Regions from separate parts of the Homo sapiens genome. Here regions 1, 2, 3 and 4 are each linked to region 5. The links come from fine-mapping of genetic effects on gene expression. A gene starts in region 5. Each other region holds a variant in brackets. All regions are shown on one strand. Distances are from middle to middle.

What was found.
Region 1: its variant is fine-mapped to the expression of WASHC4 in skeletal muscle (GTEx, PIP above 0.99).
Region 2: its variant is fine-mapped to the expression of WASHC4 in skeletal muscle (GTEx, PIP above 0.99).
Region 3: its variant is fine-mapped to the expression of WASHC4 in amygdala (GTEx, PIP above 0.99).
Region 4: its variant is fine-mapped to the expression of WASHC4 in whole blood (INTERVAL, PIP above 0.99). The same link has a PIP of 0.9 or more in tibial nerve.

Annotation. Positions count from the first base shown.
Region 1 is chr12:105,186,292-105,191,425 of GRCh38, reverse strand. APPL2 (adaptor protein, phosphotyrosine interacting with PH domain and leucine zipper 2) reads left to right here. Exons shown (of 21, transcript NM_018171.5): 15 at 1,271-1,435; 16 at 1,602-1,654; 17 at 2,979-3,153. Among named protein-coding and RNA genes, the nearest start is that of APPL2, 47 kb to the left of the region's middle. The variant T/C (reference allele first, on the strand shown) is at 2,959.
Region 2 is chr12:105,176,925-105,182,058 of GRCh38, reverse strand. APPL2 (adaptor protein, phosphotyrosine interacting with PH domain and leucine zipper 2) reads left to right here. Exons shown (of 21, transcript NM_018171.5): 18 at 4,797-4,833; 19 at 5,043-5,134. Among named protein-coding and RNA genes, the nearest start is that of APPL2, 57 kb to the left of the region's middle. The variant G/C (reference allele first, on the strand shown) is at 3,089.
Region 3 is chr12:105,217,634-105,222,767 of GRCh38, reverse strand. APPL2 (adaptor protein, phosphotyrosine interacting with PH domain and leucine zipper 2) reads left to right here. Exons shown (of 21, transcript NM_018171.5): 3 at 5,043-5,102. Among named protein-coding and RNA genes, the nearest start is that of APPL2, 16 kb to the left of the region's middle. The variant C/T (reference allele first, on the strand shown) is at 2,091.
Region 4 is chr12:105,152,456-105,157,589 of GRCh38, reverse strand. It overlaps WASHC4 (WASH complex subunit 4), which reads right to left. Exons shown (of 33, transcript NM_015275.3): 27 at 798-864; 28 at 268-354. Among named protein-coding and RNA genes, the nearest start is that of WASHC4, 47 kb to the right of the region's middle. The variant C/AGAAC (reference allele first, on the strand shown) is at 2,539.
Region 5 is chr12:105,105,466-105,110,465 of GRCh38, reverse strand. It overlaps WASHC4 (WASH complex subunit 4), which reads right to left and starts at 2,735. Exons shown (of 33, transcript NM_015275.3): 1 at 2,605-2,735. The coding sequence starts at 2,665. LOC414300 (a long non-coding RNA gene) reads left to right here and starts at 2,824. Exons shown (of 2, transcript NR_121211.1): 1 at 2,824-3,678. RefSeq lists enhancers at 469-628, 2,467-2,626 and silencers at 2,187-2,436, 2,647-2,926.

The DNA.
Region 1 (5,134 bases), 81 kb before region 5:
CCTCTCTTAAAGACAGGATCAAACAGATGTGACTGTCCCATTTAGGGTTATTGAAGCAGTATGACATCCTGGAGATGCACTCTCCTGGCAGTGAGGAGACCCCTGTTTATAATCTGGCTCGCCCACCAGGTAACTGAGTGCCTTCAAAACTGCTCAATTTCTCCAGAGGCCTCAGTTTCCTTTTCTGTTAACAATGGAGGTCAGACCAAGTGGTCTCCAAGGGCTTGCCTTGCAGTGACCATCTACAAGCCTATGTACTGTTTCATCCACATTCCAGTCATTATGATCATTTGTCAAATGCCTGTTGTAAAGTAGTTTGATACACTACATTCAGTTATTGACATGTTTGAGAAATAGGAAAATATTGACATATCAAATGAACAGAAAGATCACTGAGAGCTTTTTAAGGTCCAGGCAATGAAAGAAATCAAAATACATTGATATTCTTTGCCCTTCAAAGGAGTTTATAGTCTGGCTGAGGAGAAAAGATTTTTAAAACGTTGAAAAGTTAAATTACAGTATTCTGAGACTGGAGGAGAAGAACATGTTGGTTCCTGATTAGTCTGTCCACAGAGAGCACAGTATTTGATGGGCCACAATGTCAGCAATGAGTGTGGGCACAATGCGAAGCTCAGGAGGCACACAGGGCCGCAAGACTGTGCCTGTGACTTACTGAGAAGAATCACAGGAGTTCAGAGGAGGGAGGCGGGGTGCCGGCTGGCCTAGTGGATAAGGAAGAATTTGAGCTGGGTTGGGAGAGTTGGGTGAGCAGCAGAATTGGGATAAAGATGGAAATAAGGAAAAGCATGTGGTATGTGTGGTACAGCTCTCGTAGAGGGTGCATTAAAGGAGTGGAAAGGGAGGCTTTTGGGGAAATTAGAGCCAGATGGTGATTAAATGCCAAGCCAGGACCTTTGGTTCATTCAGCTAACATTTTTTAGTGCCTACTATGTTCCAAGAATACATATGACTTAGCTATAGCATAGGCCCTCCAAAACCTGCCTCACAGAGAAGGATACAGACAGAAAACTAGTAACACAGTGCAGGATGCTGTGCAGCAGAGAGAACTGCAGGAAATGGGGCAGACTGAAGGTTTTTAGCCAAGGATATGAAGGAAGTTTGAAGAAGGTTTATTTGTAGAATGGATTAAGGGATTGAGGTCAATCTTTCCCCTTGTATTTTCATTCATAAAAGTCACCTCAGCCTTCAACAAGTATTCACTTGATTATAAAAGCGTAAGGTTAAGGGAATTGATTTTTTTCCCCTTCAGCCAGAACCTGAAAAATTCAGAGATGGAAAATGAAAATGACAAGATTGTTCCCAAAGCAACAGCCAGTCTACCTGAAGCAGAGGAGCTGATCGCGCCTGGAACGCCGATTCAATTCGATATTGTGCTTCCTGCTACAGAATTCCTTGATCAGAACAGAGGGAGCAGGTATGGGCTGAGAGAGGTTATCTCTGGGAGAACTGAAAGTAAATTTGAGGTATCTTGTGTCCCCCTCCACCACCAAAGACTGTTGCCATTCTGATTTCCAGTTCAAGTGTTAAGTGCCCTTCTAGCTGCAGCTGTCGTGTTTGTTCAACTCTGGCTATTCCCCTAGGCGTACCAACCCTTTTGGTGAAACTGAGGATGAATCATTTCCAGAAGCAGAAGGTAAGTGACTAGTTTGGTGTCCTTATTCTTTCCTCTGCACAAAATGACAACGGCCATTGAAATAAGATGTGAAATCATGTTTTAGAGAGCTATGATTAGGAGTATGAATTAAGATTTGTTGTTCTGAAAGTTTAGTAAGATATCTGCAGTGGAGGCAAGTCTTGGATAAAAACTGAGGGGTAGCTGAAAGACCACCTACAGCTATTTCACCATTAGCCATAGCGTTTTTGTAGCATAGCATAGAAATGTTGTGAAATCTGAATCTGTTATCACATTCAAATGCAGTCTTGGTGAACTGGAAATACGCTGTGTCATTTTAGAAAACCAAAAGCACAAATAACTTGTTCTTGAATTTGAAGATGACACAAATGATATTTAAGTCTTTCAAATTCAAATTTTTGGTTTTTTACATTCTTATAATGTACTTAAGAACGTATCTGATGGCCGGCACGCTGGCTCACGCCTGTAATCCCAGCACTTTTGGAGGCCGAGGCAGGTGAATCACGTGAGCTTAGGAGTTCAAGACCAGCATGGGCAACACAGTGAGAACCCTGTCTCTACAAAAATATATATATATATACAAAAATTAGCCAGGTGTAGTGACAGGTGCCTGTAATCCTAGCTACTCAGGAGGCTGAGACATGAGAATCACTTGAACCTGGGAGGCGGAGGTTGCAGTGAGCTGAAATCATGCCATTGCACTCCAGCCTGGGCTACAGAGTGAGACCCTGTCTCAAAAAAGAAAAAAAAGAAAAAACCTTCTTTGGTCTTCTAGTTATGGTTGCTGGGAGTCAGTTTTGTCAAGTTATGCGCCACTGTCAGCAGCCAGGACTGACTTCCTTTAGGCTATGAAACATCATCACTGCCTTTCCGTAATACACATGAAGTATGAATTGCATGAGACCCAACATGAGATCTTATATCCTGCAAATAAAATTTCTTTTCTAAGAGGACTTTATCAGTGGGCCAAAGTAATGAATTTTCTATTGTCTAGTGAACTCACTCTTTTCAGAGAAAAGGTACAATGTAGTCACCTAGAGTTTCAGCATTAGAAGGATGTTCATCTGGTACCACCATCATTTCATTTTATAGATGAAGAAAAGCCTTTCTAGTCTAATGAAGTAGTTCCAAACAAACTGACAAGATGTAGACAAATGGAAGACGCAGAGCTTTGGCAATATTGGGCTTATAAAAGTGGTATTGAGAAATTTTGGTAGAAAGTCCTCCACAGAAAGCAGGCAAAACTAGCACATCTGACCCTGGTATGCAGATCAACAGCAGCAGGAAGTAAATGAGATCCTGAG[T/C]GGAAAATGCTGTCTTCCAGATTCTCTTTTGCAGCAGATGTTTATAGTTCGGTTTTTGGGATCAATGGCAGTTAAAACAGACAGCACTACTGAAGTGATTTATGAAGCGATGAGACAAGTATTGGCTGCTCGGGCTATTCATAACATCTTCCGCATGACAGAATCCCATCTGATGGTCACCAGTCAATCTTTGAGGTACGTTCAGTTTTATTTTCAGACTTTCTTATGGCTTCAGCTAATTCCCCTTTTAAGGCTAATGCACCCATCTGAAATGTTAGTACTGGAATGAAGAGACTACTCTTGCTTTTGCCCCCACTACTTTTTACATAAGATAGATAGCCTAGAAAGTGCTCCCTTAGAGACAAGAACTGGTATCTTCAAAAATCCAGTGGTGAGTGAATACTGTTGTTCACAAAGATGCCATCACACTAGACTTATTCTCTATATTATAGCTCAGAGCTTGAAAATGGAAGTTTTTTGGTTTTGCTTTTTTTTTTTCATTTCTGAGAGTACTATTTATAAAAAATAATGGAAAAAAACTTAAAAATCTGCCTAAATAACTTGGCCATCACAGAGAGAGCAGGCCATATTAACTACATGATTTAGTGTTTCAGGTAATACGATCTGGGTTTCAGATATGACCAAAATCCTGGTTATGAACATGGGTGTATGATACTGTAGCCACAGGTAGCATCTGCAGCAAAACTAGCCTGAACTGAGATGTGTTTTCAGTGTTAAATACATACCAAATTTCTAAGATTTAGGATGTAAAACATCTCACTAATTTTTTAGGTTAATCACATGTCTGGTAATATTTTAGATATACTGGATTAAGTAAAATTAATTTTATCTGTTACTTTTCACTTAATGTGGCCGCTGGAAAAACTTCGATGACATATAAGGCTTCCATTACATTTCTAAGGGACAGCACTGCTTTAGAGCCAGAATGTCTCAGTTTATTCCTGGCTTCGGCATTTCTTAGTTATGTGACCTTAAGCAAATTTTTGAGCCTCTGTACCTCAGTTTTTTCAGCTGTAAAATGAAAGTAACTATTCACACCCTCCACTGTTGTCATGAGGAATAAATGTCATGAGGAATAAATGTGCTAATATATGTAAGACATTTACAACTCACTGGCACATGAAAAGTGCTCAATGAACGTTAGCTTCAAAAAAGGTAACTAGGACTATAGCAAAAATTAGGATATAGCTTCTTCCATTCATTAAGCCCATCCTTTTCATTTATTATGAACCTTATCTGAGAATTAAGTTCTTATTAATAAAACCTGTTCTTTCACTATGTCCTGGACCTTTTACAGAAATGGGCTCATGGTTCTTATAATCCTATTGGTCCTGGAATAATTTCCACCAAAAAGATCAAAGGAAAATATATGTAAAAGTACTGTGAAAAACCACAGCACATCAAAGTGAAAAGAAAAACTACAGAATGGGAAAAAAGTATTCACAAATTCTATCTAATATGGATGTAGTACACAAAATATACAAAGAACTCTTATAAAACTCAACAGAAAGACAACCCAATTAAAAAATGGACCAAGGACTTGAAATAGACATTTTTCCAAAGATCATATACAAATGGCCAATGAGGACATGAAAAGATGCTATGTGTTACTAGGGAAATGCAAAACAAATCCACAATGAGATATGTCACTCCATATTAAGATGGCGTGCGCACGCATGCACACTGTCTCACAGATGTTTATATATATATGATATATATGATATATATATGATATGATATATGATATGATATATGATATATATATGATATATCATATATATGATATATATGATATCGATATCATATATATGATATATATGATATATATATGATATATATATTTAATGGAAAATAAGCGTTTAGCAAGGATGTGAAGAAACTGGAACCCATTGCTGGTGGGAATATAAAATGGTTCAGCTGCTGTGAAAAAATAGTTTGGCGGGCTCCTGGGTAGTTACCCAAAAGAATTAAATACAGGTGTTCAAACAAAAACTTATACGCAAATGTTCATAGCAGTCCTTTTCGTGATATCCAAATGGTGGAAATAATACAAATGCCCAACATCAAATGAATGGATCAACAAAATGTGGTAGAGTTGAGCATTCCAAATCTGGAAATCTCAAATGCTCCAAAATCTGAAACTTTTTGAGTGCCA
Region 2 (5,134 bases), 72 kb before region 5:
GAGCAAAACTCCATCTCAAAAAAACTGGAGAAGCAAGAGTAAACAAATTCAAAAGCTAGCAGAAGACAAGAAATAACTAAGATGAGAGCAGAACTGAAGGAGATAGAGACACGAAAAACCCTTCAAAAATCAATGAATCCAGGAGCTGGTTTTTTGAAAAGATTAACAAAATTGATAGACTGCTAGCCAGACTAATAAAGAAGAAAAGAGAGAAGAATCAAACAGACACAATAAAAAATGATAAAGGGGATTATCACCACTGATCCCAGAGAAATACAAACTACCAACAGAGAATACTATAAACACCTGTATGCAAATAAACTAGAAAATCTAGAAGAAATGGATAAATTCCTGGACACATACACCCTCCCAAGATTAAACCAGGAAGAAGTTGAATCCCTGAATAGACCGATAACAAGTTCTGAAATTGAGGCAATAATTAATAGCCTACCAACCAAAAAAAAGCCCAGGACCAGATGGATTCACAGCCACATTCTACCAGAGTTACAAAGAGGAGCTGGTACCATTCCTTCTAAAACTATTCCAAACAATAGAAAAAGAGGGACTCCTCCCTAACTCATTTTATGAAGCCAGCATCATCCTGATACCAAAACCTGGCAGAGACACAATAAAAAAACACAATTTCAGGGCAATACCCCTGATGAACATCAATGCAAAAATCCTCAATAAAATACCAGCAAACTGAATCCAGCAGCACATTAAAAAGCTTATCCACCATGATCAAGTTGGCTTCATCCCTGGGATGCAAGGCTGGTTCGACATACGCAAATCAGTAAATGTAATCCATCACGTAAACAGAACCAATGACAAAAACCACATGATTATCTCAATAGATGCAGAAAAGGCCTTCGATAAAATTCAACACCCCTTCATGCTAAAAACACTCAATAAACTAGGTATTGATGGAACATATCTCAAAATAATGAGCTATTTATGACAAACTCACAGCCAGTATCATACTGAATGGGCAAAAACTGGAAGCATTCCCTTTGAAAATTAGCACAAGACAAGGATGCCCTCTCTCACCACTCCTATTCAACATAATATTGGAAGTTCTGGCCAGGGCAGTCAGGCAAGAGAAAGCAATGAGGGTATTCAAATAGGAAGAGAGGAAGTCAGATTATCTCTGTTTAAAGATGACATGATTGTATGTTTAGAAAACTCCATCGTCTCAGCCCAAAAACTCCTTAAGCTGATAAGCAACGTCAGCAAAGTCTCAGGATACAAAATTAATGTGCAAAAATCACAAGCATTCCTATACACCAATAATACACAAACAGCCAAATCATGAGTGAACTCCCATTCACAATTGCTACTAAGAGAATAAAATACCTAGGAATACAACTTACAAGGGATGTGAAGGACCTCTTCAAGGAGAACTACAAACCACTGCTCAAGGAAATAAGAGAGGACACAAACAAATGGAAAAACATGCCATGCTCATGGATAGGAAGAATCAATATCGTGAAAATGGCCATACTGCCCAAAGTAATAGTGCTATTCCCATCAAGCTACCACTGACTTTCTTAACAGAGTTAGAAAAAACTACTTTAAATTTCATATGGAACCAAAAAAGAGCCCGCATAGCCCAGATAATCCTAAGCAAAAGGAACAAAGCTGGAGGTATCATGCTACCTGACTTCAAACTATACTACAAGGCTACAGTAACCAAAACAGCATGGTACTGGTACCAAAACAGATATATAGACCAATGGAACAGAACAGAGGCCTCAGAAATAACACCAAACATCTACAACCATCTGATCTTTGACAAACCTGACAAAAACAAGAAATGAGGAAAGGACTCCCTATTTAATAAATGATGTTGGGAAAACTGGCTAGCCATATGCAGAAAACTGAAACTGGACCCCTTCCTCTTAACACCTTATACAAAAATTAAGTCAAGATGGATTAAAGATTTAAATGTAAGACCTAAAACCATAAAAACCCTAGAAGAAAACCTAGGCAATACCATTCAGGACAGAGGCATGGGCAAAGAGTTCATGATGAAAACACCAGAAGCAATGGCAACAAAAGCCAAAATTGACAAATGGGGTCTAATTAAACTAAAGAGCTTCTGCACAGCAAAAGAAACTATCATCAGAGTGAACAGGCAACCTACAGAATGGGAGAAAATTTTTTCAATCTATCCATCTGACAGAGGGCTAATATCCAGAATCTACAAAGAACTTAAACACATTTACAAGAATAAAACAACCCCGTCAAAAAGTGGGTGAAGGATATGAACAGACATTTTTCAAAAGAAGACATGCGGCTGACAAACGTGAAAAAAAGCTCATCATCACTGGTCGTTAGAGAAATGCAAATCAAAACCACAATGAGATACCATCTCACACCAGTTAGAATGGCGATCATTAAAAAGTCAGGAAACAACAGATGCTGGAGAGGATGTGGAGAAATAGGAACGCTTTTATACTGCTGGGAATGTAAATTAGTTCAACTATTGTGGAAGACAGTGTGGCGATTCCTCAAGGATCTAGAACCAGAAATAACCATTTGACCCAGCAATCCCATTACTGGGTACATACCCAAAGGACTATAATCATTTTCTATAAAAACACATGCACACTATGTGTATTGCACCACTATTCACAATAGCTAAGACTTGGAACCAACCCAAATGCCCATCAATGATAGACTGGATAAAGAAAATGTGGCACATATACACCAAGGAATACTATGCAGCCATAAAAAAGAATGACTTCATGTCCTTTGCAGGGACATGGATGAAGCTGGAAACCATCATTCTCAGCAAACTAACACAGGAACAGAAAACCAAACACCGCATGTTCTCACTCATAAGTGGGAGCTGAACAATGAGAACATATAGGCACAGGAAGGGGAACATCACACACTGGGGCCTGTTGGTGGGTGGGTGTCAAGGGGAGGGATAGCATTAGGAGAAATACCTAATGTAGATAACGGGTTGATGGGCGCAGCAAACCACCACAGCAACATGTATACCTATGTAACAAACCTGCACGTTCTGCACATGTATCTCAGAACTTAAAGTATAATAATAAAAAAAGAGAAATCTAGGTTACCT[G/C]ATTTAAACAGCAAACTTCTGAAAGTGACCCACAAAATATGCATGTGTTAAGTTTTCACTTATAAGGGAATTTTACAAAATACCTATGAAAGTTATTCCAACTTGAGGAAAACTGTTTATGATCTATATTCAAAAAATTAAATTCATGCCCATTAATAGGGACGTAAAAGTAACTTTTCTTAAGCTTTGTCTACTTAAATTCCCATACACACTTCTCATTAACTGTCATAACCACCTCTTGGAAGTGGGGGTTCTTACCACAGTTTTACAGATGAACCAGTTGTAAGAAGTCCGGGTGACTTGCACAAGATCAGGTGAGTAGCCAGGGTAGAACTCAATCTCGAGTTCTCTGATTATAAGTCTTACGGTTTAATAAGTGTAACTGCACGTATTTCCAACTGTAGCCTTTTGTTGGGGGCATGGGGGTGTAACAGTTTTACTGAGATATAATTCACATACAATTTAAATGTACAATTCAGTGGTTTCTAGTATATTCAGAGTTGTACAACCATCATCACAATCAATTTTACAACATTTTCATCACCTCAGAAAGAATACCCATTAGCCCCTGGCAACCCACCCAGCCCTAGGAAGCCACTAACCACTAAAATTGCCATCTCTATAGATCTGGACATTTAACATATAAATGGAATCATAACCATTTTTTCCACAAACTATATTTTTGCTTTCACCTATAAAATGTATAGTAATAATTTACATAATAGCATGTTAATTATTCCAACACGAGTACAATACAGTAGAAATTTATAACCACTTATCTAAGATAGCAATAAATTCTCTCATATAGTTTATTTTCTAGGATATGTCAACCTGATTATTAGATGATGCTTAAAATACTGTTGAAGAAATATATTCTGAAGGCCTGGCGCGGTGGTTCATGCCTGTAATCCCAGCACTTTGGGAGACTGAAGCAGGCAGATCCCCTGAGGTCAGGAGTTCGACACCAGCCTGGTCAACATGGTGAAACCCCACTTCTACTAAAAATACAAAAATTAGCCAGGCATTTTGGCTGACACCTGTAATCCCAGCTACTCAGGAGGCTGAGGCAGGAGAATCGCTTGAACCCGGGAGGTGGAGGTTGCAGTGAGCCAAGACTGGGCTGCTGCACTCCAGCCTGTGTGACAGCAAGACTCTTCTCAGAATAAATAAATAGTAAATAATTAAAACAAGGAAATATATTTTGGAATACTTTCTTAAACATTATTCCTCTTTTACCCAAATTGATAAGAGTTTTGTCAAAATCCCTTCACTATTTTGTCACCGCTACCTCATCTTTTTCAATAATGTTAAATTTAGACTAAGTTGATCTTGCACTTCAGGGACATTAAAGTTGCCAATGGATGTTTGTTGAGAGGGAGGCTGTACAGAATATAATCCATCCATATTATATAGCAGATCTGTTGAGGATTATAATGCTGTCTGTTTGGGTAAGTTGCAGAATCCTGTGAAGTTAAATCTTCTACTTGCTATATAATCTTCCATTATAGGTACCCTGAGCTTTAGCTACACAGGTTCCTTAAAGGCAGAAAGCAGGACACGTGGTCACACACAGCTATCTCGCCTCACCCTCTAACAGGCTTTATCTCTATTTCGGGGAATTTGTATTTATTCTGGACTTCTACAAACTCTTCTAGGAATATTAAATTTATCCAACATTTGTGACATAATGTATCTTTTAAAATTTCAGGTTGATAGATCCACAGACTCAAGTATCAAGGGCCAATGTAAGTACCGCATACAGGTTCATGTTAGTGATTACTCCTTAATTCACCTTTGTATCTACCTTAAACACAGCCTAGGCACTTTATTAATAAAGATCTGCCACTAATAGGACTAATAGGATACTTTTTCTCATGACTTTTCCAGAGAGTAGCCTTGTCAGTTTTTAATTCTAGTAGTTGTATGATCTGTTGCCTTTTTTTCCACCCCCCAGTTTGAACTTACCAGTGTCACACAATTTGCTGCTCATCAAGAAAACAAGAGACTGGTTGGTTTTGTCATCCGTGTTCCTGAATCCACTGGAGA
Region 3 (5,134 bases), 110 kb before region 5:
CATAATGACGGGGTTTCCTTGTCCCTTCATGGACTCTCAGCTCCCAGAGCTCAGAGTTAGATGTTGCCAGTGCCCTACACCATGTCTGGCCCCATTCAGTGTTTGGTAGGTAGCAGTCTGGCCCCATAGGTGTTGAATGAAGGACTGAATTTGGGACAGCTCCACCTAAAAGCAAGGACATCTCAACGGCACACTTTGTTGTCATTTCCAAATTCATATCCCCTCCTCAGTTCCTTGGCTGAAGGCACCGTTCTCCATCTGGCCTTCCACATGGGCAGCACAGTTCTTTCTGACTCCCCCGCCTTCCTCACTCACCACACCCTGCTGTTTCTGCCTCAGGAATACCTCCATGCCCCGCTCTGCACTGTCTGCCTCAGGCTCAGACACTTGTTTATCTCAGCTTCTCCAAGTGGCCTCCTGATCAGTCCCCCTCATCTATTCTCTCTCCCACTTCAGTGTTTTCTTCCCACCACCACCACTCCTGGTTTTCTTCCACCCGTGCCTGAGCTTCTCATACTCCTGCCTGAGTTCCTTGGTGCTTCCCCACTGCCGCTGGAATAAAGTCCAGGTCCAGCAGGCATCCCCCCGTGGCCTGCCTCGCATGAGACGCTCCAGCCGCGTTCTTGCCACACCCCTCACTACTCCCTGTGTGCATCCTGTCTCGAGGGGCTCCTGAACTAGTGCGACCCGTGACCGCCAGCTTTGTGATAAACACTGGGTACTGAATGTGACTAGGCAACATCTCCAGCCAAATAGTTGGTATAGATCGATGTGGATTTCCTCCACCCCACTCTCTAGCCTCTCCATTCATATTCACCGTGGATGCTGCTGCGCACAGAGGCCCTTGGGGGTTTCAGGTGACAGTTGCATTTAGTTAGCGTTCTGTGCTACAGAAAGATAAACATTCCTTTGCCAAATGCCCAGTTTTCCTTTCAGGCTTGCTAGCCACTTGATTTTCTGCCTTGGCAACAGCCCCGGGAGGTTCTGTTGAGCATGGGAGATGCTGTCAGCAAACCCTCCTCAGGGTGTCCTTTCAGGGCTTCTCACAAAGCGGTGCATAGTGTAGATGGCAGCCAGAGCGGCCCAGAGTGCCCAAAACAATGCTGCTCATGGAACTCCATTGAGAATTCCCACTTTAGCCCACGTCTTTTGCTCTTCTACCACTAGAAAAGTGTGGGACTTAGGTTCATATCTATGGGCCCTACAGGTCCTGCCCACCTGAGTATTGAGTAGGTGCAATTTTGGACTTTAGATTGGAATAGCATAATAGTCAGAACATGAGCTTTTGATTTCGAGTCCTGCATTAAGTTGTTGCCTGCCAGTCACTAGTCATGTGGCTTTAGAAAGTTATTTATCCTTTCTGAAGCTTAGTCTCCACGTTTACAAAATGGAAATAATAATAGTATCTACTTCATGGGTGCACTGTGAGGATTAAATGTGATAATATATGAAAAACATTTAACAGCAACATCAAGCACTTAGGGCAGACTCAGGGTTAGCAGCTATCTTTATTGATGTTATTGCTAATATTTACTCCTCACTCGGGCTCCAGTTTTGCAAGTCCTGTTGTAGAGATATTTTTGCAGGCCTACCTCACAGGGCACAGGGCGTGGATTAATTAGCTGATGTTGGTAAAGCATTTCTTACAACCTTTGTGTACAGTAGCTTAAGTATGAGTAAGATTAAAGTTGATCTCTTTTGAAAGACTTTTCACACAATGTGCTCTGTTCAGGGCAGGTGACAGGCTGTGTTGTAAGCATGTTGGTTTCCGATGAACTCATACTGGCTGCACAGAATCATAGTTGGTCTTGCACCCTGAAATATTACACATAGGAAAACACGCAGCATTTTCAAATGGTATTCCTAGGAGAGACCCAGAGAGTCTGGTTGTTCGAAGTCGTTTTGGAAGGCAGCTGTTGTGTGTTGCACGCTGTGCCCCTTCTTCCCTGAGCGGAGGTGGAGCTGTGTGGCTGTGTGAGTGGCACATGAGTGCTCTCCCCTTGAGCTTTGGGTACAGCCTGATGCTGGCAGTTCCCTGGCAGGTCTTTCCATTACATTCGGAGCATTTGCCAGTAAGCTCTGAGGAAGAA[C/T]TTGAGTGGCCCATGGTCCCTGCTTGTTTGGAAGGCCTGGAGGGTGGTTATATGTGTTGACCAGTCTCTGAAGGAGGCATATATGGGGAAGTAACATATTAGAGTTGACTAAAATAAAGAAAAGAATGAATTAGAAGAGTAGAAGCTCCTGGGATCTGAAATGGTGTAGCTTAAGAGAGCCTCCTGCAGAGGGTGTGGCAAAAGAATGGGTCTTTGAGACATCTGATGACAAAGCAGGATCAGTAATCCATGGCTCTTGGGCCAGCATCTTATTTTTGTAAATAAAGTTATATCAGAATGAAGCCACATTTACTTGTTTATATGTTATTTCTGGCTTCTTTTGTGCTACAAAGCAGAGTTGAATAGTTGTGGCAAAGACCATATATGGCCCACAAGCCTAAAATATTTACTCTCTGGCTCCTTACAGAAAAAGTTTGCCCACCCTAGTGTAAAGCAGAGGCCTTCTCCTCTCCTGCCTTGTGGTAGAACTTGGGATCTCAGTAGCATTTAGGAGTGTGGATTTTAGAATCGGACAGCTCCAGGTTCACATCCCAGCCCTGCCACTCATCAGCCGTGTATCCTTGCACAGGTGGCTTAATCTCTCAGTGCTTCAGTTTCTTCATCTATAAAATAGAGTTATTAATTAGAACCTGCTTTTACAGGGTCATTGGAATTAGATGAGGTCGTGCACAGAATGCATTTAGCATAGGGTCTGGCATGAATGAAGCCCTCTGTAAATGTTAGCTGCTGTTACAATGATTCTGTGGGTCTGCAAATCATGTTCCACATGGTGCTGCCCTCAGGAACATGCCAAGATAGCTTGAATGAATCCATCTGCTGCTAACTCAGAAAGAAGGAGCACGAGATTTTCAGTCATAGCTGAGTATCAGCCCAGTGAGTGAGATAAGACCTTTGTTTCCATGCACTCTGATCTTCAAAACAACACTGCTAAAGATGGTTGACAGGTAGTAGTCTCTGGCCAATTGCTTTGTATTTTATTTCATTTGTGATGTTTCCTTGTACAGTTAGGAAGGATTTTAAAACCCTTACACCATGATTTCAGGTATTGTTTTAAACTTGGAATTTAGATGAATCTTCTAATCTTGTTCATTCATTCATTCATCAAACATTTGTTGAGGGCTTGCTGTGTGCTAAGAATTGTTGGACGTTCCTATCTGAATGAAGGACATTGTGCTTGTGGCTTTGTCCACTTGCTGACTTCCTGACTATGTGGCTAGAAGTCACATTTCTGGTTAGTTTTGAAAGGGGTTGAATACCAGTAGGATGTCAGAGCCAGGCACTTTTGTTGTATTTGTCTGACTTTCTTCTGAGGAAAAAGAGCCACGTTTCCTGGTCTATTAATGCCTATTCCTTAGGGCAGAGCAGGAAGTCAGGGAACAGGTTGGCCAGTTGTCTGCGAAGAGGGTCAAAAAAAGGTAGGACTTGGCTCTACTGTATTCTGCCAAATAGGACTGGGAAAAATAAAATAAGCTCCTGCAGAGCTCAGGACTTAGCCTTAAAGGAACAACAACCCCAGGAGAAATAGCCAGTGGAGGCCAAGGCCAAGGAGGTAGGCCAGTGTCCTCCCATCATCTGTGCCATGTCAGACCCAGTGGCTCTGCTCCTTAGGAATAAACCCTGAATCTTAAGCTTTAACTGAGCTTTAGAAATGTAAGGCAAGTTTTCTAGGCTGCCCACATCAGTGGTAGGAGGATAGTGGTAGAAAACCGCTGTGTAGCCAGAGATTAGAGGAATAAACAAGAGGAGAGGAAAATGAGCAGTACGGGCTGGTGAAAATGGCACAAAACAGGCCTCCCAGGGCATCGCAGCTCTTGAAGAGCAGTGTTTCCTCTGGTTTTCTGGGATACTTGGGTTTAGCTGTGCTTCTGTTACCATCCATCATTGCCAGCGAGTGTTCTAAGCCTGGTGGAATCTGACCTTGTCATATGCTGCTTCAGTCCCCACTGTGCTTCCAGTATGTGTGAGCCTGGGCCCCGGGGGCCTGCACACCTTCCCACTGCCTCATTCCCAGCCTGATATCACCTCCAAGCGCACAGCTCTTGCCCCAGCCACGCTCCACTTCAGAGCTGTTCAGACAGGCAGTGCATTTCTTCCACGTGTTGGCGCCTCCTGGAAAGCTCGTCCCCATGGCTGACTCCTAGTTTGTCTTCAGAACATCTGTTCCCTGGAGACTGTCTGTCAGAGCCTCCCAACACAGCCAGTATTTTTCTTTTGCAGTTCTCATCACACTTGTAACTATTTTTTTGATGCGTGCTTCCCTGAAAAGCCCCATGAGGACAGGGACTGTGCCCTTGTTGAATGTCTGGCACATTATAATTGCTCACTACATTTCTTTATGGACTGACTGACCAGAAGGAGCAGTCATTTGTAAAGGGTTAAAAAATAAAATAGCAAGCTTTAACCTTTTGATTTGTTTTGGTATTGTTTTCCAAATGTCTGAACAAAACATTTTATTATTTGACAGGCACACACATATGCTTTCTTCTTCTTTTTTCTTTTAGCTCCATATGGTGGAAAGGGATTTTTTTTTCTTTTATAATTTTTTTTTAGAGACAAGGTCTCACTCTGTCACCCAGGCTAGAATGCAGTGGCACAATGATGGCTTACTGCAGCCTCAACCTCCTGGGCTTAAGGGGTCCTCCCATCTTAGCCTCCTGAATAGCTGGGACTACAGGTGCATGCCATCCTGCCTGGATAATTAAAAATGTTTTTATTTTGCAGAGATGGAGTTTTGCTGTGTTGCCTAGTCTGGTCTCAAACTCCTGGTCTCAAGTGATCTTCCTGCCTCAATCTCCCAAAGTACTAGGATTATAGGTGTGCACCACTGGACCCAGCCAATATTACTTTTTAAGGGATTCTCAGAGATGGCATTTTTCAGTGACTATGTATACATTGGACTAATCTTACTTGCTTTTTCTCTTCTCTCCACAGAATGAGATGTGCCTGGCCACACAACAGCTTTCTAAGCAACTGCTGGCATATGAAAAACAGGTAACTTGGTATTTATGTGGCCTGTGATGCTG
Region 4 (5,134 bases), 47 kb before region 5:
TTTATACTTGAGCACATCTCAGTGTGGACCAGCCAAATTTTAGGTGCTCAAGAGCCATGTGTGGCTAGTGGCTGAAATACTGGACAGCATGTTCTAGAAGCTGGAAAGGTCTTAGAATACTGAAGTCTTAAAAATTATACTTCATAAACTGAGGCCATAATTTTGTATAATAAAAACAGTGGCATAAAAATTACATATTACCCTCTGGTCTTCTCTTCAGAATGTTTTTTATAAACACACTTTTTTATATTTCCAAATTTAGATTACCTTGCTGCTTTTAATGTTTCTTCTGCAAGACCTTCTTCTTTTACTAGTTCTTCAAAATTTACAATATCTTCAAGATCAGGAACAAATCTACATAAGAATTTGGGAAGGCATTTATTAGGTCAAGTAAAATATGTGCAATTGACACAGATATAAAAGTGGTACTGCAGGACTCTAAAATTTTCAACTATGTATTTGGAAACAACTGTGCATTTCAGTAATATTATTCATATCACCACTTTAGTTCCAAATTGAATTTTAGATATGAATATTTTAATCCTTAAAATCATGTAATCTTTACATGCATTCATAAACCATATTGATAAATTAACTTAAGAGAAATATTTTCAGAAGTCTGCTGCAGTCTTAAAATTTGAGAAAAATCTAGTAGAATTAATAGTTTTCTTCCATATTTTATCTCAAAATATATCAAGAACAAACACCTTATCTACAATATCACTTGTAACATATATTTAATGGACACAATTTTTAAAATGGCATAAACAAGGCAAAAATGATGTTTGCATCCATACCTAATGGCATTGCTGCTACAATGAAGACCACCAGATCTTATCATTCGTACATAGCCCATAGCATTACCTTAAAAACCACACAAAAAAATCAGATATTTATATAAATAACTCTAAATTCTAATAGGAATATAGTTACATACAGTAGTAAATTACAAGGTTTCCACTCCTAAGAACCAAAATATTTTGCTATATTTTACTTCAGTTCTTATCATAAAAAGTAAAACTGTTACATATTTCTACACTTAAAATATAAACATACATACTTATATATAACTATATTAAATATTTAAAAGTAAATGTTATTTTCATTTGATAAACTAAAATCATTAAATGCTGACTACATTAAAATGGTCAAGCTTAAAATTATAATATCAATAATTTCTCCTCTCACATTGAGATTCAATCTCCGCCACATACACAATTGGAAGTGATATCAAGAAATCTTTATTTGATGCCTCCCAAATTTATATCTCTGGCCTGGACTCTTCCTCTGAACTCTAGGTTTTTTTATCCGATGCCTACACTTTTATGTCTAATAAGAATTTTATATTTCATATGTCCAACTCAAGCTCAGGATCTTTATCCCCAATTTTGCCTATCAAAGAAACTGGCAATTCTATCCTTTCAGTTGCTCAAGCCAAATGTCTTAAAGTCATCCCTGGCTCCTTTCTCTCACATTTTATAATCAAAATGACTGGGCAAATTATATTGACTTTGCCTTGAAAACGTAGCCAGAATCCACCCACTTTTCATTCACCCCTTCATAGATATCCTCCTATCCAATCCATCACCAGCTCTTGGCTGGAGCACTGCAATATGCAATGGCCTCCTGATTTCCCTACTTTCACCTTTAGCATCCTGCCACATTCCCCAGTGTTGTATAATATCTACAGAGCTGCTAGTGAATTTTTAAAAACTAAGTTAGAGCGTATAGTGCTTTTTCTTTTTTTTGAGACAGAGTCTCACTCTGTCACCCAGGATGGAGTACAGTGGTATGATCTCAGCTCACTGCAACCTCCGCCTCTGCAGTTCAAGCGATTCTCCTGCCTCAGCCTCCCAAGTAGCTGTGATCACATGGCGTCCGCCACCACGCCCGGCTAATTTTTGTATTTTTAGTAGAGATGGGGTTTCACCATGTTGGCCAGGCTGGTCTTGAACTCCTGACCTGAGGTGATCCACCCACCTCGGCCTCCCAAAGTGCTGGGATTACAGTGTGTGAGCCACACATGCCCGGCCCCATATCATGCTTTTTCTGAAAATGCTGTAATGGCTTTCCACCCTCAGTAATCAAAATCCTGACATCGATCTTGCACCCCTCTGCTACTGTTCAGATAGCATGCCCTGCCACTTAGATCTTTGCTCACTCCATTCCAGCCCCTATTTCTCAAAAATGTGAACGAATCAGGGCTTTTGCACTTACTGTTGCCTCTGTCTGGTAGACTCTTTCCCCAGATGCACGTGGCTTACTCCCCAACCTTATTTAGGTCCCTGCTCAAATGTCACCTCCTGTTTTCCCTGAACATCACTGACTAGCACTGCCCAGCCCCCTTACATCTCCTTACCCAGTACTTATCACTGACATACTATGTATTTTTCTGTCTGCATCTTCCCCCACCTAGAGTTCAAGATCCATGAGTACAGCCTTTGTCTTCTTCACTGCTCCATCCCTAGAGCCAACATGTCCTGGCAAATAGTAGGAATTCAATTTATAATTGAACTTTATTGAAATTACTTGAAAGAA[C/AGAAC]AGACGGAAATGTAAAAACAAGTTAACATTTCATAATCATGAGTAACATACATTTTACATACATTATCTTATGTTTTTAACAACCCTACATAGCAGTTAACATTGAATCTATTTTAAGGCCTGTCCCAATATGAGAAATGACATTGAAATTTTTTTAATGTGCATCTTTAAAAAGTCAAATGACAAGTTTGTTTTCCTCCAAATCATCAGACCAAAGTCTGAGGAAGCAAAATAGGAGAGCCTAGTATAGAGCGGCAATTAAGAGTAAAAGCTCTGAAGCCAGGCCACCTGGGTTCAAATCTGGTCTCCCACATGTTAGCTAAGAGACCTACAAATTATGTTATGTTACCTCTCTGTATCTCAGTCTTCTCATCTGGTAAATTAAGCTCAATAAGGACAGAGACTTTGTTTACTGTCATAAATATCATCAGCACCTAGAAACATTTGTTGTACTGAATGAATACCTGTGCAGTGAATGAAGGGAAGAAATATTTCATAAATGTTGTGGTAAGATTCACGTGAGTTAAAACATATAAAGCACTAAGAATAGCCATGGCACAGTAAATGCTCAATAAATGTTAATTATTATTATTTCAGCAGGCAAGTTATTAGTCAAAAAGGCTTCCATTTTGCTCCCAGATTCTTTACACCTTTTCTCAAGATATTTATCAGACTCAAAAGCACATTACAGTGTTTTATAAGCAGAGGTAAAGAATTTGTATTGGCCGGGCGCAGTGGCTCACGCCTGTAATCCCAGCACTTTGGGACACAGAGGCGGATGGATCACGAGGTCAGGAGATCGAGACCACCCTGGCCAACATGGTGAAACCCTATCTCTACTAAAAATACAAAACTTGGCTGGACGTGGTGGCATGCACCTGAAGTCCCATATACTAAGGAGGCTGAGGCGGGAGAATCGCTTGAACCTAGGAGGCACAGGTTGCAGTGAGCTGAGAACATGCCACTGCACTCCAGCCTGGGTGACAGAGCAAGACTCTGTCTCAAAAAAAAAAAAAAAGAATTTATATTTTCTAAGAAGAGAATAAAGAGTAAAACGATGGATTAAAATGAAAAGGATAATATTCCCCAATTGTGGACTGCAACCTGGTGGTAAGCAAGGTGACATTAGATGGCACACCAAAGAACACTTAGTGATTATGTATTTAGGGCAAAAATGACTAGCATTTTAAGGACTATGATTTAACAACTGTTATTTCTAAGGAAAAATTATACTCTCAAAAAAAATAAAAACATGTAACAATAGTGAAGGCAGTATTAACAGGATGCAAAAATTCTGGGTATGTGTATAAATAAAACTTAAGTAACACTGCTCTAGAAGGACAGCTCTTAATCTGAGGTCCATAGACCCAAGCTTTAAGCACATGGACTCTAGCATATCATACACAAAATTGTGTACGTATGTCATATAGGCATTAGTTCTGGAACAATCATCCTGGAGTTTTCCTCAGATTCTCAAAAAAGGTTAAGAACTATTGCTCCATAAGTTTGCCGCTTAATATTAAATGTCCACTTGAAGAAAACTTATTTGTACTTATTTGACAATACTTAATATTGAATGGTTTATAATAAAACATTTACAAAGGTAAAATCCTCCAAGTTCTTGTACTAAAACATAATAGAAATGTCTAATATGCAAATCAATTAACTGAAAAAACTTTACTCCAGAATGAAATGCTTATAACGTATTACCCACTAGTAAACCTAAAGTCTCCTGAAAGCAAAGGGGTTGGTATTCCCAGCACCTAACAGAAAATGTGGCATAACAGATGCTTAGTAAATGCTTGATAAATGAATAAATCAATCTCACAAGGCAGAATTTTCCCAAAATATAGTCAATAAGATTTTACTGTTTGGTGTTAATATAAACTTTCAAGAATATAAAACCCATTTGGACTTATAGCTAAATAACCCTGGTTTAAGTCCCAGAAACATGACTTACTTCTTTCTCTAAGTTTCTCTTTTTTCATCTTTAAAACGATTACATGCCTATCTCACAGGGTTATTGTGAACATATAATGTATGTGAAAAGCTCAAATAAGTATAAAGTTTTGTTAAGCGATGATTATGAAATGTAGTTCTTACTTTTAAATATAAAAGTACTACATATCAGAAGACAAGTTCCACTCGTAAGGGCAGAAGGACAATACATTATATGCACAAGTAAAATGGTGTAACATAGAACTTAATAACTTTTCATGTAAATATTTTATACCTTCACATTTAGACTGGAACTTGTGGGAGCCTTTTAGAAGCCCAAAACAGTGCCTTGAACAGAGCAGGTATTCAGTAAGTACTTACCAGTTTACAATTATTAATATGACCTTTGAGATTTAGTTATTAAATAACTTTAATTATAATTGAAGAGGTTTTATTTACGTGATTAGCCTATAGTCTATCAATTATTTCTGCAGCAACAGTCTAATCATACTTACAAATTTTGGGGGTAAAAAAATTACATGAGTGGAGTAAAGCTGAGCTCAGGCTTTCACATGAGCTGCTTATTAGTGTGAAATAGTTAATATATGAGATAGACTGTAGGGATCTGTACCTGATTTCCCAACACTTTTATCATAAC
Region 5 (5,000 bases):
TAAGGAATCATTGGAATAAGCTGGATTTTAAAATATGCCTATTCGTCAAAGTATTTCACGTTACACATAAAAATTCATTACTTGTTCCCAAAGGTAACAAATTCAACTCCAACTCAGTTTCTTTTATTGATATGAATAACTTTATTCAACCTTTGTCTTCTAAAAAAGGTAAAAATTTGCTCTCCTCAAATTAGCAATGTGAAGCAAGTAAGAGAAAGTGTGTTCTGACTCATGCTGTATTAAAGTATAAAGACCTAGCCCCCACTCTCCTTTATTCTTCAACCACATAAAGTTTTAAATCCGGTGAATCCATTTAGTTCATTAAGGTTTCTGTCTTATTATAGCATTAATCTAGGCAATTTTGGAAAACAATTAGTCTAGATATGATTCACAGACCAAAAATTAATGAACGCCAAGCACAGGGAGGTGTTCTCTTCCCTACAGCTTACATATAAGACTGCCCAGATTCTCAGAACCCCAAATAGTTGTCTTATTCTCAACTACACAGGAAATGACCAGTCAAAGCTGCATTTGACCAGCAAATGACTTCTTAAAGACAATGCTAGGCCGGGCATGGTGGCTCACCCCAACACTTTAGGAGGCCAAGGCCGGTGGGTCGCTTGAGACCAGGAGTTCAACATGGCAAAACCTTGTCTCTATCCCAATTTAAAAAGAAAAAATCAGCCAGCTACTAAGGAGGCTGAGGTAGGAAGATCACCTGAGCTCAGCTGGTCGAGGCTGCAGTGAGCCGTGGCGATGCCACGGCACTGGGCGACAGAGTGAGACCTTGTCTCGAAAAAAAAAAAAAAAAAAAAAGACAATGCTAGAGAAACACCACGCCAATAAATCACTCCTTTAGTATGTTCAGGGATTCACAAACAGGAAACAGAAAACCTAAAATAACATTAAAAGTTCCTTGCTGACAATAAACGGTTGTAAAATTGGTGAAAGTTAAAATAACAAAAGTTGAGATAAGAACTACATGGTAATTTTTTAAGAGTAAAAATTCCAAAAACCTACTTAACATGCTCATCTTTGTCAACAGACTGCACTCCTTGTTTTATCTTTTTATCCCTAATATCTAGCACAGCCACTGGTTGTAGAAAATATCTGTTGAGTGAATCAGACCATTCTACTCCAGGCTGAACCATTTTCAAACTCAATTAACATAACTCTATTCCAATTTTTTTTGAAGATACCAGTTCGTCATCTTTGTCCATAAAACATATATGACAAGGTACAGTTCACTTTATAACAATACAGAATCCCCTCCACAAAAAAAAATTAAAAGATTTTGTCATTATCTCCAAGGTTAATTTTTATGCTGCATAAGAGCTAATACCTTATTATCACCCAGGCTAGAGTGCAATGGCGCGATCTCGGCTCACTGCAACCTCCGCCTGCCGGGTTCAAGCGATTCTCCTGCCTCAGCCTCCCAAGTAGCTGGAATTACAGGCGCTCGCCACCAAGCCCAGCTATTTATTTTTTAGTAGAGACGGGGTTTCACCATGTTAGCCAGGCTGGTCTTGAACTCCTGACCTCAGGAATGTTTTGTGAAAAACTGCAACCCATCCTGGATGTAGCTCACTCTTCTCTGAGAGACTTGTAAAACCTAATTCATCTAACATTGTAGGCATTAGTCTCTCTTCGTAAATCAAGCAAAATTCATCCGGAATTTTTAAAAGCAACGTTCCACCTTTTGGGAAAACTATGAGGGAAAAAAAAAATCACAAACAGCATGCTCCAATCTCTCTTAGATCACTTACACAGATTACTATGACCAAAGATAAGAAGCAGATTGCCAACTTGTATTTATTTCAAGTAGAGTTTCACTACAATTAATTTGGCCTCAATATTTTACTGAAAGAAACACAATTTGTTTATTTCGGGATAGACTTCTAAGTTAAAATCAGACAATTCGATCTTGTGAAGCAAAATTTGAAGATTTGCTGTAATTTTTGAAGCCTTTATAACTGCGATGGAAACTGCAGAACATCACTGAAAAATATCACTTAGCATAAATAAAAGGCCTGGAAAATGATAAAATGACATTCACGTGTTTATTTTCGCAGGGTGAAAAGTTCTTTTTTCGCTCCCTTCTACGGTTATAGCAACGCGATGGGAAAGACACCCAAACTTGCAAAAGTTGATTTGGGAGGAAAAGAAGAAAAACAGGAAACCGAAACAGGAACCCAGACATCAGCGTCCTCCAGAGCTGAACGCTCAGAATCTGGCGAAATCCCCAAGAGGCCAGAGACAGAAGCAGCCTGGGATCCCGGGGCCGCTGGGCCTCCCGGGCGCGCCCCGCCCAAGCCCCGGGGCAGCTGAAGGGGGACGCCGCTCCCCGCGGGGCACCGCAGGCTCCCCAGGAGAGTCTCCGCCTCACACGCCGAGCCCTGAACGGGCAGCCTGACCCGCCGTGGCTGGGACCCCAACCCCGAAAGTAACGCTGGAGAGCGCGTCCCTCGCACACCCCAAGGGCTCTGAAGTGTCCCGCACCAGACGGCTGCGCAGCCGTCCCTCTCGCAGGAGCGCTGCCCAGCCCAGAACAGCGGCGGGCCGAAGGAGCGTCCACCCGCAGCCCTCGCCCTGCAGCTCCCTTACTCTGCGAGCCGTCGTCAACGCGGTCAAACTCCCAGTCCGGGGACAGAGTCTCCACCGCCATCACCCCGGCGCCTCCCACAGACACAGCCCCAACCAGCCCGTGCGGCGACGACGGCCTCACCCCAGCTACTGTCACAGCACGTGACTTCCGGCCCCGGCCCCGCCTCCGCTCGCGAGGGCCGGCCGGGCTCGTTGCCCCTGCGACCGCGGGGGCCCCTGGGAAAGCGAGTCCTCCGCCGTGGCCGAAGGCGGCCGCCATGGCGCCGGCAGTGCCAGCGGGCGTCTTGCGACCCGGCTCGGGCTTCGCCACCATTCACTGTGCTTCTCAAGCCACTTCGGCACTCTAATTTCGCCCTGCTCTCTCTAGACGATTTTTAATACCTGGGAAAGTTACTCCCCAGTCTAACCTAAAAAGGTAGAATTGATGGGGTGGGGAATTAACAGGAAGGCATGATCCTCGAGGATAACGCTGACCAGGCGCTTCTTCCAACAAGCCTGTTTCCCTCTCTGTCGCCACCGTAGGAGTTCCTACAGCTCTCCCGCACATTCTGTACGGATTGTTTTTTAGTCAAGACGTTCTGTGCGAGAGGAGAAGTTACTTTATGAACACCCTAACAGGGGATCTTACGACCTCTTCCCCGCTCTCCACTCAGTCCTTTTAAAAACGCGAGGCAGGATGAAGAACGCTATTGAAGTACATTCTAAAATGATCCCACCTGCAATTTGGATTTTTGGAGAATCGGGATCGGTGTAAAATTCTACATGCATACACGTATTTGCACAAGAATATTTATAGCAACGTGGTTTTTAATAGGAAACTATCTAAATGTTCATTACAAGTGAATTACATAAAGCTCAATACATCCATACTACGAATCACTGAAGAGCTGCTAAAATAGATGAAATATATTTATAATGGCATGAACAACCGACACAAGACAGTTGCAGAGTAATGTGTATTTGTGATTACATTTATGTTTTTAAGTTATACAAACGCGTATGTGCCTACGTGTATGTAAATTCATAGGAAGACAAATCAGAGGACGGTGGTTACCTGGGGAAAAGCATGTGTTGGTGAGTAACAGGATTTTCAAGTTTTGATGTGTCTACTTATGTGTTTTGAATCCTTAACAATGAGAATTTATTAGGGTTTTACTCTTGTAATCTTAAAAAGTACCGAAAAGAACTAATCAATGTAGGCAAAAGGTCTATTGAAGAGCATTCTTCTGAGGTCATTGGATCTGCCCTGAGTTAAATGTTTATTGAGTGCCCACTGGGTACCAGGCACCAGGCTAGATGCAGAAACTATAAAACATGTAAGAAAATTGCTTTCTGACCCTATGGCAGACTTAGTGGGCATTTCAGAAAGAAAAAAAAAATCTTGAAAAGAACAGGCATCCTTAGGGTCTAATGGCTGACAAACTTTTTTCCTGTACTTTCTGTGTGACCATGAGTTTGACTTTCCTGGATTCTTAACATTTGCATTAAATCACTGTAATTAATCTCCCAGCAGCTCATTGTGATAAATTGAACTTACAAGTCAGAAAAATTTGAGTCTATAAATACACTAATCTATTAAAGTTAATAGATTAGTAGCAAGAGGCAGTGTCATGTAATAATTGAAAGCACAGTTTTGACTGCCAAATTGCCTAGGTCCAAATCCTGGCTCTGCCACTTACTAACCATGTGATCTTGGGTCACGTAATTTAACCTCTGCCTCAATTTCCTCATCTATAAAATGAAAATAAAATAAAACTAGTAAACACCTTGTGGGATTCTTACGAGGACTAAATTAGTTAATACATATAAGGTACATAGAACAATACCAACCACATACTGTACCAGGTTGCTATTATGAATCAATATAGATTTATCTTAAAAAGATCTCAGAAGTCCCAGATCTCACAAGTCCCAGTGTGGTGGCTCATGCCTGTAATCCCAGTACTTTGGGAGGCCAAGGTGGGTGGATCACTTGAGGTCAGGAGTTTGAGACCAGCCTGGGCAACGTGGTGAAACCCTGTCCCTACTAAAAATATAAAAATTAGATGGGCATGGTGGTGCCTGCCTATAGTCCCAGCTACTCTGGAGGCTGAGGCAGGAAAGTCGTCTGAGCCACTACACTCCAGCCTGGGCAACAGAGCAAGACTCCATCTCAAAAAAAAAAAAAAAACTCAGGGATTTTCTGTCTTGATCTTAAATATGTTTAAATCAAATTTCACAGCCTATAATTTCAAATTTTGTTAGAGAATTACAAATTAGATACCAAATAGAAAAGCACATTCACTAAATGAAAAGTGCTATCTGAAAGTTATTTATAAAAATGTCCTATTGTTCTTAGACGTAGTCTGCAGAAGGCAAATCATTATTTTAAGTAATCACATATTCTTCATTCTACT